Homo sapiens: one gene and its partners. The protein of the gene in region 3 purifies or fractionates together with the protein of the main gene of each other region. This does not show direct contact. Each region holds a gene or a part of one and is shown on either strand. Other genes may lie near its edges. The genes, in order: MAN2A2, DNAJC16 and ECEL1.

Region 1 (3,721 bases), on a different chromosome or scaffold from region 3:
GGGAGCGGGGAACTAGTACGAGCAAGGTGTAGCTGCGCCAGAGCCCAGGTGACAGAGCCCGCCACTCAGTCACTCGTGCATCAGATAGATATTGAGCACCTGCTTTACTGTGAGGACCCAGAGGGACATAAGTGCAGACAGTGCTGACTCTCCCAGGAGTTTACTCGTGAGTAGGGGTGGCAGAGAAGCCATGTGTGTAAAAATGCAAGGTAGAAAGGGCTTTGTCTCACTGATCCTGAGGAGCAAGGTAATAATGTGGGCTAAGGAGATCGAGGTCAAGGAGGTGTCACCCAGGTGTGGCTTTGATGAATGGGGTGTGATTTGAAGATATGAACCAGGGCACAGGATAGGAGGCAGGAAAGACAACAGGCTGGGGAATAGCAGTGAGTTCCTTAGTTATGCTGGAGCTATGCTATCCAGTACGGTGGCCAGTAGCCCTATATGGCTATTTAAATTACAACTAAATCAAGTAAAAAATTTGCTTTCTTATTCCTACTGACCACACTTCAAGTACTCAAGTGGCTAAGTGGCTGCCGTATTAGACCATGTGGTGTCGGATATTTCCATCCTTGCAGAATGCCCTCTTGGCTGGTGCTGGGCTAGAGTGCTAGGGGGAGATCAGGGCAGACGGCAGAGCACCTTGAGTGCCTGCTAAGGGATCTGGACTTTATCCTGGCTAGGAAAGGTCCAGGCTAAGGAAAGAGCTGAGCAAGGAGGGACACCGTCAGAACTCTGGTCTCAGCATGTCACGCTGACAGTACGGAGCAGGTTGGATCTGTGGGAAGGGAGACTGGAGGAGGGTGACAGCGGGAGGCTGTTCAGGCAGGACATGCTGGCTGCTTGAACTAGGCCAGAGGCTGGAGAAGTTGCCGGTGGCTATGAGGACACTGCCCAGGTGCGACGGAAGAGGGTTTAGCATTACCTGGGAATGCAGAGGGAAGTGAGAGATGCTGGGCGCTTGGAAGAAGGGGGATGCCAGGGACAGAAGTCCAGAATATTCAGCCCAGGCCTGTGAGTCTGACGTCCAGGTGAGCTGCTAAGGAGTAGCCCTGCTGGCAGAGCCCCGGCCGCGCTGGGCCTGAGAGCCAGGCTGGCACTGTGGATGTGGCATCGCTCGTGAAGCCGCAGATTACCCAGAGCACTCTGGATTGGAGGTCCGTGCTCCATGGTGAGGCCTGCGTCTGCCTGGCTGCCATCCTCCCTGCACTGTGGATCCATGTGTGAGGGGAGACATGGCTGATGGGAGTGGGTTGCTCATGATAGTGTTATGTGAGCAAGGAACTAAAAAGTAGAGAAGAAACAGCTTAGTGAAGTAGCCCTCTGCGTTAGGGGAGACGGCAAATGTCCACACTTGAAGGGTTAGCGGAACCTCGCCTGGAGCCAGGCGTGCCCTTGAGTCCAGGCACACCAGGAAAGGTCTTTCCAAAACAACTGACCTGGGTGTGCTTTTATCCTGCCTCGTCCTCTCCCCTCAGCCTGGCTTTGGTCCCTCACCAATATCTCGGGTCAATTTTGCAGGTCCAAGATAGCCACTCTACCAGCTACCCATCCCTCCTCAGCCACCTGACCTCCATGTACCTGAACGCCCCGGCGCTCGCTCTGCCTGTAGCCAGGATGCAGCTCCCAGGCCCTGGTCTGCGCTCATTTCATCCTCTGGCTTCCTCACTGCCCTGTGACTTCCACCTGCTCAACCTACGTACGCTCCAGGCTGAGGTGAGTGTCCCTCAGCGTGACATGCTGAGAGCAGAGTTCTGATGGTGTCCCTCCCTGCTCAGCTCCTTCCTTAGCCTCCAGGATGAGGTCCAGACCCCTTAGCAGGTATTCGGCTCCAAACCTCCAGGACCAGGTTTTGGCCTTTCCTTACCCACACGCCTCCCTGTGCCAGCACTGCCTCTGGGCAGAGGCGCTGCTGCATCTCCGATCTCTGAAAGCCCTGCGCCCACTTCCCTGGGCACTGTCTGTCATCCAGGAGGACACCCTACCCTCGGCGGAGACCGCACTCATCTTACACCGCAAGGGTTTTGACTGCGGCCTGGAGGCCAAGAACTTGGGCTTCAACTGCACCACAAGCCAAGGCAAGGTGAGTAGGGTGGGGAAACAGAGCACCTAGGAATGGCAGGCATGAGCTTGGTAAGACTGGGCTGAGATTCGGTGACAGGCTGGGAGAAGAAAGTGTCACTCCAGGGCTTTCTGGAGAGAAGGGGGGAAGCTGTAGACATGTTTTCAGAGCTCCGGAGGCCTGGCAGGGGGAGTTCCAGACAAGGTAGATCGCTTGAGAACTTTTGTTCCCTGAGCAGGGACCTCTATCAAGCAAAGTGGAAAACACCAGAAATAGAAAACCAGAACCCATCCTGTTGTTACTTTGTAAGCTCATATCAGCCGGCACTGATAAATGTCCCCGGGTGCCAGGTCCTCTGCTGGGCTCCAGTGTTTCAGAAGTGAACCAAGACATGGTCACTGTTTTCACAGAGCTCACAGCTCAGTGGAACGGTTCTTACCCAGAGATCTGTAGGCAGGCTTTAGGGTTGAGCAAATCTCAGCAAGCCCGTGAGACTGGATGCACACTCATGTGTAAGAAGGCATGGTGTTGCTGAGAGGGGCCAGCCGGAACTGGAGTGCAGTGGCGTGATCGCAGCTCACTGCAACCCCCGCCTCCTGGTTCAAGTGATCCTCCTGCCTCAGCCTCCCGAGTAGCTGGGATTACAGGCGCCTGCCCCCACGCCCAGCTAATTTTTATATTGTTAGTAGAGACGGGGTTTCGCCATGTTGGCCAGGCTGGTCTCGAACTCCTGACCTCAGGTGATCCACCCGCCTTGGCCTCCCAAAGTGCTGGGATTACAGGTGTGAGCCACTGCCCCTGGCTGAGATTCTTAAAGAGGTACCAAATTGTAGATGAACAGCCACATTCTTTAGTGTCTCGGCACCTAGCACAACCCTGCCCCTTCTCTGCTCTCCACAGGTAGCCCTGGGCAGCCTTTTCCATGGCCTGGATGTGGTATTCCTTCAGCCAACCTCCTTGACGTTACTGTACCCTCTGGCCTCCCCGTCCAACAGCACTGACGTCTATTTGGAGCCCATGGAGATTGCTACCTTTCGCCTCCGCTTGGGTTAGGGCTTCTTGTGGCCTGAAGAGAAAGTTCATTCACAGAGACTGCCTCTTAACATGAAGATCATTGGACAAGCCACACGGGTATCCCATCCCGATCTGCCTCCCAGAACTGTGACACACTGGGCTCTGCCCTCATTTTCTGTTTATTGCTGCTGCTGTGTTTTCGGCGCAACCCACAAACCCAGTGATGGGTAAATAGGGCAGACGCCAGTGAGATCAGGGAGAGAAGGCCCTTGGTCAGAGTGGGCAGTGCCAGGCTCTGCTTTGGGTTGTGAGTGGACACCCAACTGGGCACAGGCTCAGGCACCCATCCTTTTTCCAAACAGGGATATAGAAGTGGTGGAAGCAGACAGAAGAGGTAAGGGAGGCTAAGTGGGTAACAGCCCAGCATCAGGGTCACTGTGGCAACAGCAGGCTCTAGGGGAATCCTGTGGTTATGTAGAGACTCCATGTCCTGGTGTGATGAGCAGGATCAGAGTGACTCTGGGAGGACAGGGGTGGGGACCCAGAGTTAGCAGTGGGGATGGAGCAGTAGAAGGAATCACTGTTTCTCCTAGGAGTCTGAAGGCCTCGCTGCTTTCTGTGATGGCTTTGCAGTAAGTGCCGCCTGGC
Region 2 (3,721 bases), on a different chromosome or scaffold from region 3:
CAAGTAGCTGGGACTACATGTGCGTGCTACCATGCCCAGCTAACGTTTCTATTTTTAGTAGAGACAGGGTTTCACCATGTTGGCCAGGCTGCTCTCGAACTCCTGACCTTGTGACCCACCTGCCTCAGCCTCCCAAATTGCTGGGATTACAGGCATGAGCCACTGTGATGGGCTTTTTTTTTTTTTTCGGAGACCAAGTCTCACTCTGTTGCCCATGCTGGAGTGCAGTGGTGTGATCTAGACTCACTGCAACCTCCGCCTACCGGGTTCAAGCAATTCTTTCACCTCTGCCTCCAGAGTAGCTGGGACTGCAGGCACACACCACCACGCTCGGCTAATTTTTGTGTTTTAGTGGAGATGGGGTTTCACCATGTTGGCCAGGCTGGTCTTGCACTCCTGACCTCAAGTGATCCGCCCACCTCGGCCTCCCAAAGTGCTGGGATTAAAGGCATGAGCCACCACGCCTGGCCACTATCCCTGTTTGCATAGAGCAAGATACTGAGGCTTAGAGCAGTCATATAACCCACCCAAGTTCTCACTACAGCATGGTGAGCGCGATTCCCACTGACTTCAGACCTGCCCTGTGAATGATTCCCCCACTACACTCCCAGCCTACCTACACTCCCCACTACCTCTCATGTCACTGTGACATGAGACGGAGAGGAAGGTGTTATCAGTGGCATGGTCACTGCCATCTTACCTAATTACGGTACAGGTAATCCCCAAACTCATGCCTCCTGACCAGTACAGATTTCAAGAAGATCGTTATTTTGCTTTAGCTATGAAAAAGAAGAGAGTTGTTTGTATTTACTTTGTTGGTACAGTTTTTGCACATGGAACACCATAGAATGGAAGTATACAAGGATACGGAAGACCTAGTGGAGCTGTGTAAGCTGGCATGTACCTCTCTGCTCAGTGATGTGAAAAAGCCCTACTTGATTTGTCATTTACATCTTTGCTGTAGTTTTATTTTCTTCCTCTCTATTATGCCCTAACAGTTGACTGCCTTTGCATACAAAGATTATTTATCATTTGGATATGTATATGTGGGTTTGAGAGGGACGGAAGAGATGACAAGGCGGTACAACATCAATATCTACGCCCCTACCCTCTTGGTCTTTAAAGAACATATAAACAGGCCTGCCGATGTTATCCAGGTACGTGAGGGTCACCTTGGTTAAGATTTTCTTCACATTTTATCCCAAGATTTTATGTAAATAAACAGCAAAATTGAACAAAGTGGCTGAAGGAAAGGATCTTCCTTCAGATGCACAAAATTTTTTAATGAATTTTTTTATCTAACTTGGTACCGTTTGCTTTAAAATTTTTAATTTAAAACGTTTAAAAATTTTAGCACCTTTAAAGGGCTCCTGTTGGAAAACCAACAATCTTTTTCCAAAATGAATTTAAAAGTTAAATGTAAAACAGTAATAAAAAGGAATAAGAAGAAGCCACAAACTAACTGAGAGAATGTACAGATGAATATTTATCTGATCTTAAGGTAGGAAAGGGTTAAAAAGCATTGGGGAAAAATCTTGGAAAATCTTGATAACTTGACTCTAAATTTTATGTTTTTATGTAAATACTTTAAAATGTAAAGTTAAAAAACTGGGGGAATATTTATAACAAATATTAAAATGTTGATATTTTTAATTTCTAAAGAGCTTTTAATCAAGAAAATCATAAAATTCTGAGAAGACTAATAACCATTTTTAAAAATTAAATCTCACAAGTAATCAGAGAACATTAACCTTTTTTCACCCATCCAACTGTCAAAGATTTTCTAAGTTAAAATAGTACTGTTGAGGGTATAGAGAAACAAGTACTATCTTGCTAGAGGCAGTCCACTCTAATGGCAGCTCAGGTGTCCTGTGAACACAGAAGGGTACCTGAAACCATGGAAACCAGATGGGAAAGTGGACCGTAAAGAAAGAAGAGCAGGTTTAGAAAGATAAGAACTTTGGCTGTGGACATACTGAATTAGAGCTGCCTGTAGGAAATAGAAGGGGAGAAGTCCTTTCTACAGTTGGGTATAGGAATCGAGATCTTAAGAAAAGCATACAGGCTGGGGATAGAAACTGGTGTATCATCAGTAAATGGTTAGTGGTTGAAGTCCTGAGTAGGGTAAGATCTTCCCGGCATAATACCGTAGTCTCCCCTGATCCACCCCACTTACCCCTTTTTCAGTTTCTGAGGTTTCAGTTACCCACAGTCAACCAGGTCCAAAACATAGGTGACTACAGTGCAAGAAGATATTTTGAAGCCGGGCGTGGTGGCTCACGCCTGTAATCCCAGCACTTTGGGAGGCCGAGGCGGGCAGATCACGAGGTCAGGAGATTGAGACCATCCTGGCCAACGTGGTGAAACCCCGTCTCTACTAAAAATACAAAAAATTAGCCGGGCGTGGTGGTGGGCCCCTGTAGTCCCAGCTACTCGGGAGGCTGGGGCAGGAGAATGGCGTGAACCCAGGAGGCGGAGCTTGCAGTGAGCTGAGATCACGCCGCCCACTGCACTCCAGCCTGGGCGACAGAGCAAGACTCCGTCTCAAAAAAAAAAAAAAAAAAAAAGATGTTTTGAGCGAGGGGGACCATGTTCACATCACTTTATTACAGTATATTGTTAGAATTGTTCTATTTAAATATTGTTGTTGTTAATCTCTTGCTGTGCCTAATTGATAAACTTTATCATAGGTATGTGTATAGGAAAAAAACATAGTTTGTATAGAGTTCAGTACTATGTGGTTTCAGGCACCTACTGGGGGTCTTGGAACGTATCCTCTGCAGTTAGGGGATGACTGCTGTATGTAAAGTAAGGCCAAGGAGGCCAAGGACAAAACTCAGAACAGCCACCGGCACACAAGACAAGGGGGTGCCTGATGGAGACGAGAAGGTGCTGCAAGTCAGGAAGAAAACAAATACCAGTGTCCGAATAGAAAAGAGAAGATAATCTCAATCCAGGGTAAATGGATGAGGATTTCCTAAATTGGTCTTTCGGAACAGTTTATAGTTCTGAGAATTATATTTATTTATCCCACTGGGGAAAATTGTAAATCAAATACATTTACAAAATTATTGGTAGAATGGCTGCTTTACCAGCTTGCTCTTTGTGGATATCAAGTGTATGCTTAACAAACTCAGTTTTCACAACAGCAGGTGGCTTAATGATCACTAGTAGCACCAGTGGTTTCCTGTTGCTCTAGGTAATTTGTTGTCATTGCTATATGGTATTTATGGCCATTATAATTTATTGAATCATTCTTCCGTTGGTGGACATTGGGGGCTTTGAGGAATAGTGTTGCAATGAATATCATAACCTAAGTACAGAGTTCTCTAGGACAGCAGTTTTCAGAATGTGGTTGATAGACTCCTGGGGATTCTCAAAGATCCTTCAAGAGAAAGTCTGTGAGATCATATCAAGACACGATTTGCCTTTTTCACTGTGTTGACATTTACACTGATAGTACCAAAGCAGTAGTGGGTGAAGCTGCCAGTGCCAGTGCATGAATCCAGGCAGGGCACCAGGCCACCTACCATCATTGTGTGCTTCACCCCCAATCACTCGCAGCAAAAACAAACCACTAGATTCACTTCATGTATTTTGTTTTCTTTTGTTTTTGGAGACAGAATCTCACTCTGTCGCCCAGGCTGGAGTGCAATGGCATGATCTCGGCTCACTGCAACCTCCGCCTCCCGGGTTCAGGCAATTCTTCTGCCTCAGCCTC
Region 3 (2,767 bases):
CAGAGCTGGCTGGGCAGTGAAACAGGGCTGGAGGAGACAGGAGGGAAACGGAGGCACCTACGTAGGGGTTTCTCCTCCTACCTCATCATTAGTGTTGCGCCACCTTTGAAACATCAAAATGAGCCTCAAACAAGTAAAGAAGACCCCAGGAAGTTACAAATAACAAACCTACACATTTTTCTAAATAACCAAGGATGTAGTGGGGAGCCAGGGTCCACAGCTGTCCTGACTCCTGAACCCAGCTGGGTCTGGGGCGATTGGAGCCACAGTACGCCGACACACACCTGGTAGACAAGGTCTGCAATGCCAGCCCTGCCCTCAGCCACAAACAGGGCAAGCTATGTACTCACTGTGGGAAGTCAGGGTCGTACAGGGTGGGCTGCAGGATGCCCGCGGGGAACACTACAAGAAGGGGGTGCTCAGTGGGAAACCCATCCACTTTCGGACCCTGCCCCGCCCGGCGTAGGGACACATCCCCTTACCCATCTGGTTCTTGTTGGGTAGATAGTAGGCATTGAGCGCCTGTGGGGGGAGCAGCCACCTGTGGAGGGATGCTGGGGTGAATGGGGGGAACACACTCCCTCCCCCGCTACCCTCACATCACAGCTTCCTCGTCAGCCATCTCCTGACAGTCTGGGGGTCACCCTGCCGGCCCCCACCCCATGCCCTGTGCTGGCGTGTGTGCCCCCCATATCTGCATGGCTGTGAGACGATTTGCCCTACCAGCTCCTGCCCTTTCCCCACAACCCTTCCCTGACCCCCAGCTCTGGGCCAGGCACCCACGTGGACTTGTCCACCTCCTGCCGAATCTTCTTAACTGAGAGCTGGATGCTGAAGCGGATGCTGTTCAAGATGTTCTTGAAGTAGGTCTTCTCATGGACCTCAAACTGCAGGAGGCACGGGCGACACTCAGCGGCAGGCCAGGGCAGGGCTACCTGCAGACTGGGCAACAACCTGGCCGTGCAGGCCACCTGCCCTCCTGAGTGCCGTTAGTAGAGGGGCTGTGGACAGGCTGGGCAGGCAGGGTCAGGGCCCACCTCATACTCCTTGTCCACAGCATCGGGTTTCAGCAGGAAGTCCGGGTAGCCGACCATCACCATCATGTACTGGAGCTGCGGGCCGAGGGCAGGTGAAGGTGGCACCAGGCCTCGGGAGACAGCCCCCCGCCCCCCACCCTACCCACCAAGGAAGGGAGCACTAGGCCAGCCTGGGAGTGGGCTTCACAGTGGGGGAGGCAGGCCTGGTCAACTCCACGAAGGCCTCTTTGTCCCTTTTGTTCTCTTTCGCTGGTACACAGTAGGTGCTCAATATATATGGGACCAACCAATGACACTGGGTCCCCCCTCACCTTGGCCCGAGCAGCAGCCCTGGTCTCGGCGTCCATCCAGTCCAGCTCCTCCAGGCGCTGGCCCAGGATGTACTTGATGTCTTCCACTAGCTGCTGCACCTGCAGGGTCAGGGGTCAGGGAGCAAGGGTCAACCCAGCAGCCTGGTCTATCACTCCTGGCAGGAGGGGTACCCCTGCCTTTAAGCACCACTTTCTAAGCCCAAACCTCATTTCTGAACACCAAGAGGATACTTTGGAGGTGAGGATCCAGGCCCTGCACCCCCGAGGGCTCACAAGATAGAGGAGGAAACTGCCCCAGCAATGACCACAGACATCCCTAAGGCCACGCCTCCCGAGCATGCCTGAGAAGGTGGGCTGGGGCCTGGCAGGGAGGTCTGCCTGCAGTTGATAGTCCACATAAGCTTCCTGGAGGAGGAGGCCTGTGGAGGAGCAGCCTGGGGCCTCAGAATCGGCTGAGTACTTAGCAGGGCCTGGTCCCCCTGCCTGCAGGGGACATGTGGGGCTCCCCATATTAGGACCATGGCCTCGGGAGGGCTCCACCCTCAGTTCAGCACCATCCTCCTCTCTCAAACAAGGGCAACCCACCTTGGCTTTGCTGGCAGCTGAGAAGTGCTCATGTACAAAGAGGGCGCCAAGCGCCATGCCAAAGTGGCGATTGGCCTGGCCCAAGCAGACCCGGGCCAGCTCCTGTGGCTTGTCGCTGCCCTCCATCTCCTGTGCCAGCTCGTGCAGTGCCTCACGGAATGGCGGGGACAGGTGTTCACTCAGGACCACCACCACGCGCCACACCAGGTAGTTGTGCAGGACCCTGGGGACCAGGTGAAGCCAGTGGGTGTCCAGACGGACATGCATGTGGGCCACCAAGGGCACCACCCCTACCTGTGCCCGCCAACCTGTGGCTGGACCCAGGACCCAGACAGCCCCACAAAGAAGGGACAGGGGGTCATCCCAGCTATGCAGAGCAGAAAATGTAAAGCCCACCCAGCAGAGAGGTCCAGGGTGCAGGGGAAGGACCTAGTGACCGCTGGGCAGAAAATGCCAGATCTGCAGCCATACCGGTGGGGTGTGGAGCGGATGAGCTGCGACACCTGCTGCATGTAGTCTGTCGCCAGCAGCACCACCTCCTCTTCCTCTGAGAAGTCCTCCTGGAAGATCTGGTCTAGCAGCCACTTCCACCGCAACTGTGAGACCAAGGACAGGGACAGTGAGGCTAGGGTTGGCAGGGGCCACAGAAGACAGGGAGGGGGCAGAGAGAGGCAGCGAGGGGACATGAGAGTCCATGGCCAAGGAACGGTTTGCCCATCTCTGGGGAGAGATGACCCTGTAGTCCCAGCAGCAGCATTGCCCTCAACCCTGCCTGCCCACGAGGACTGGGCCACACTCACGTGGGGGGTGATCTTCTGCAGCTGCCCCAGCGTC

Evidence for each region.
Region 1: the proteins of ECEL1 (region 3) and MAN2A2 purify together in Homo sapiens (affinity purification with mass spectrometry; one large-scale study listed by BioGRID and IntAct). This does not show direct contact.
Region 2: the proteins of ECEL1 (region 3) and DNAJC16 purify together in Homo sapiens (co-immunoprecipitation; 2 studies listed by BioGRID and IntAct, with this or other methods). This does not show direct contact.

The regions. Positions count from the first base shown.
Region 1 is NC_000015.10:90,916,676-90,920,396, forward strand, and holds part of MAN2A2 (alpha-mannosidase 2x), read left to right. Parts: intron 1-1,518; coding exon 1,519-1,713; intron 1,714-1,969; coding exon 1,970-2,080; intron 2,081-2,959; coding exon 2,960-3,112; 3' UTR 3,113-3,721.
Region 2 is NC_000001.11:15,547,272-15,550,992, forward strand, and holds part of DNAJC16 (dnaJ homolog subfamily C member 16 isoform 1 precursor), read left to right. Parts: intron 1-998; coding exon 999-1,157; intron 1,158-3,721. UniProt on the Homo sapiens protein: Plays an important role in regulating the size of autophagosomes during the formation process.
Region 3 is NC_000002.12:232,482,068-232,484,834, forward strand, and holds part of ECEL1 (endothelin-converting enzyme-like 1), read right to left. Parts: coding exon 2,734-2,767; intron 2,530-2,733; coding exon 2,405-2,529; intron 2,157-2,404; coding exon 1,934-2,156; intron 1,448-1,933; coding exon 1,349-1,447; intron 1,113-1,348; coding exon 1,038-1,112; intron 888-1,037; coding exon 784-887; intron 542-783; coding exon 483-541; intron 403-482; coding exon 351-402; intron 1-350. UniProt on the Homo sapiens protein: May contribute to the degradation of peptide hormones and be involved in the inactivation of neuronal peptides.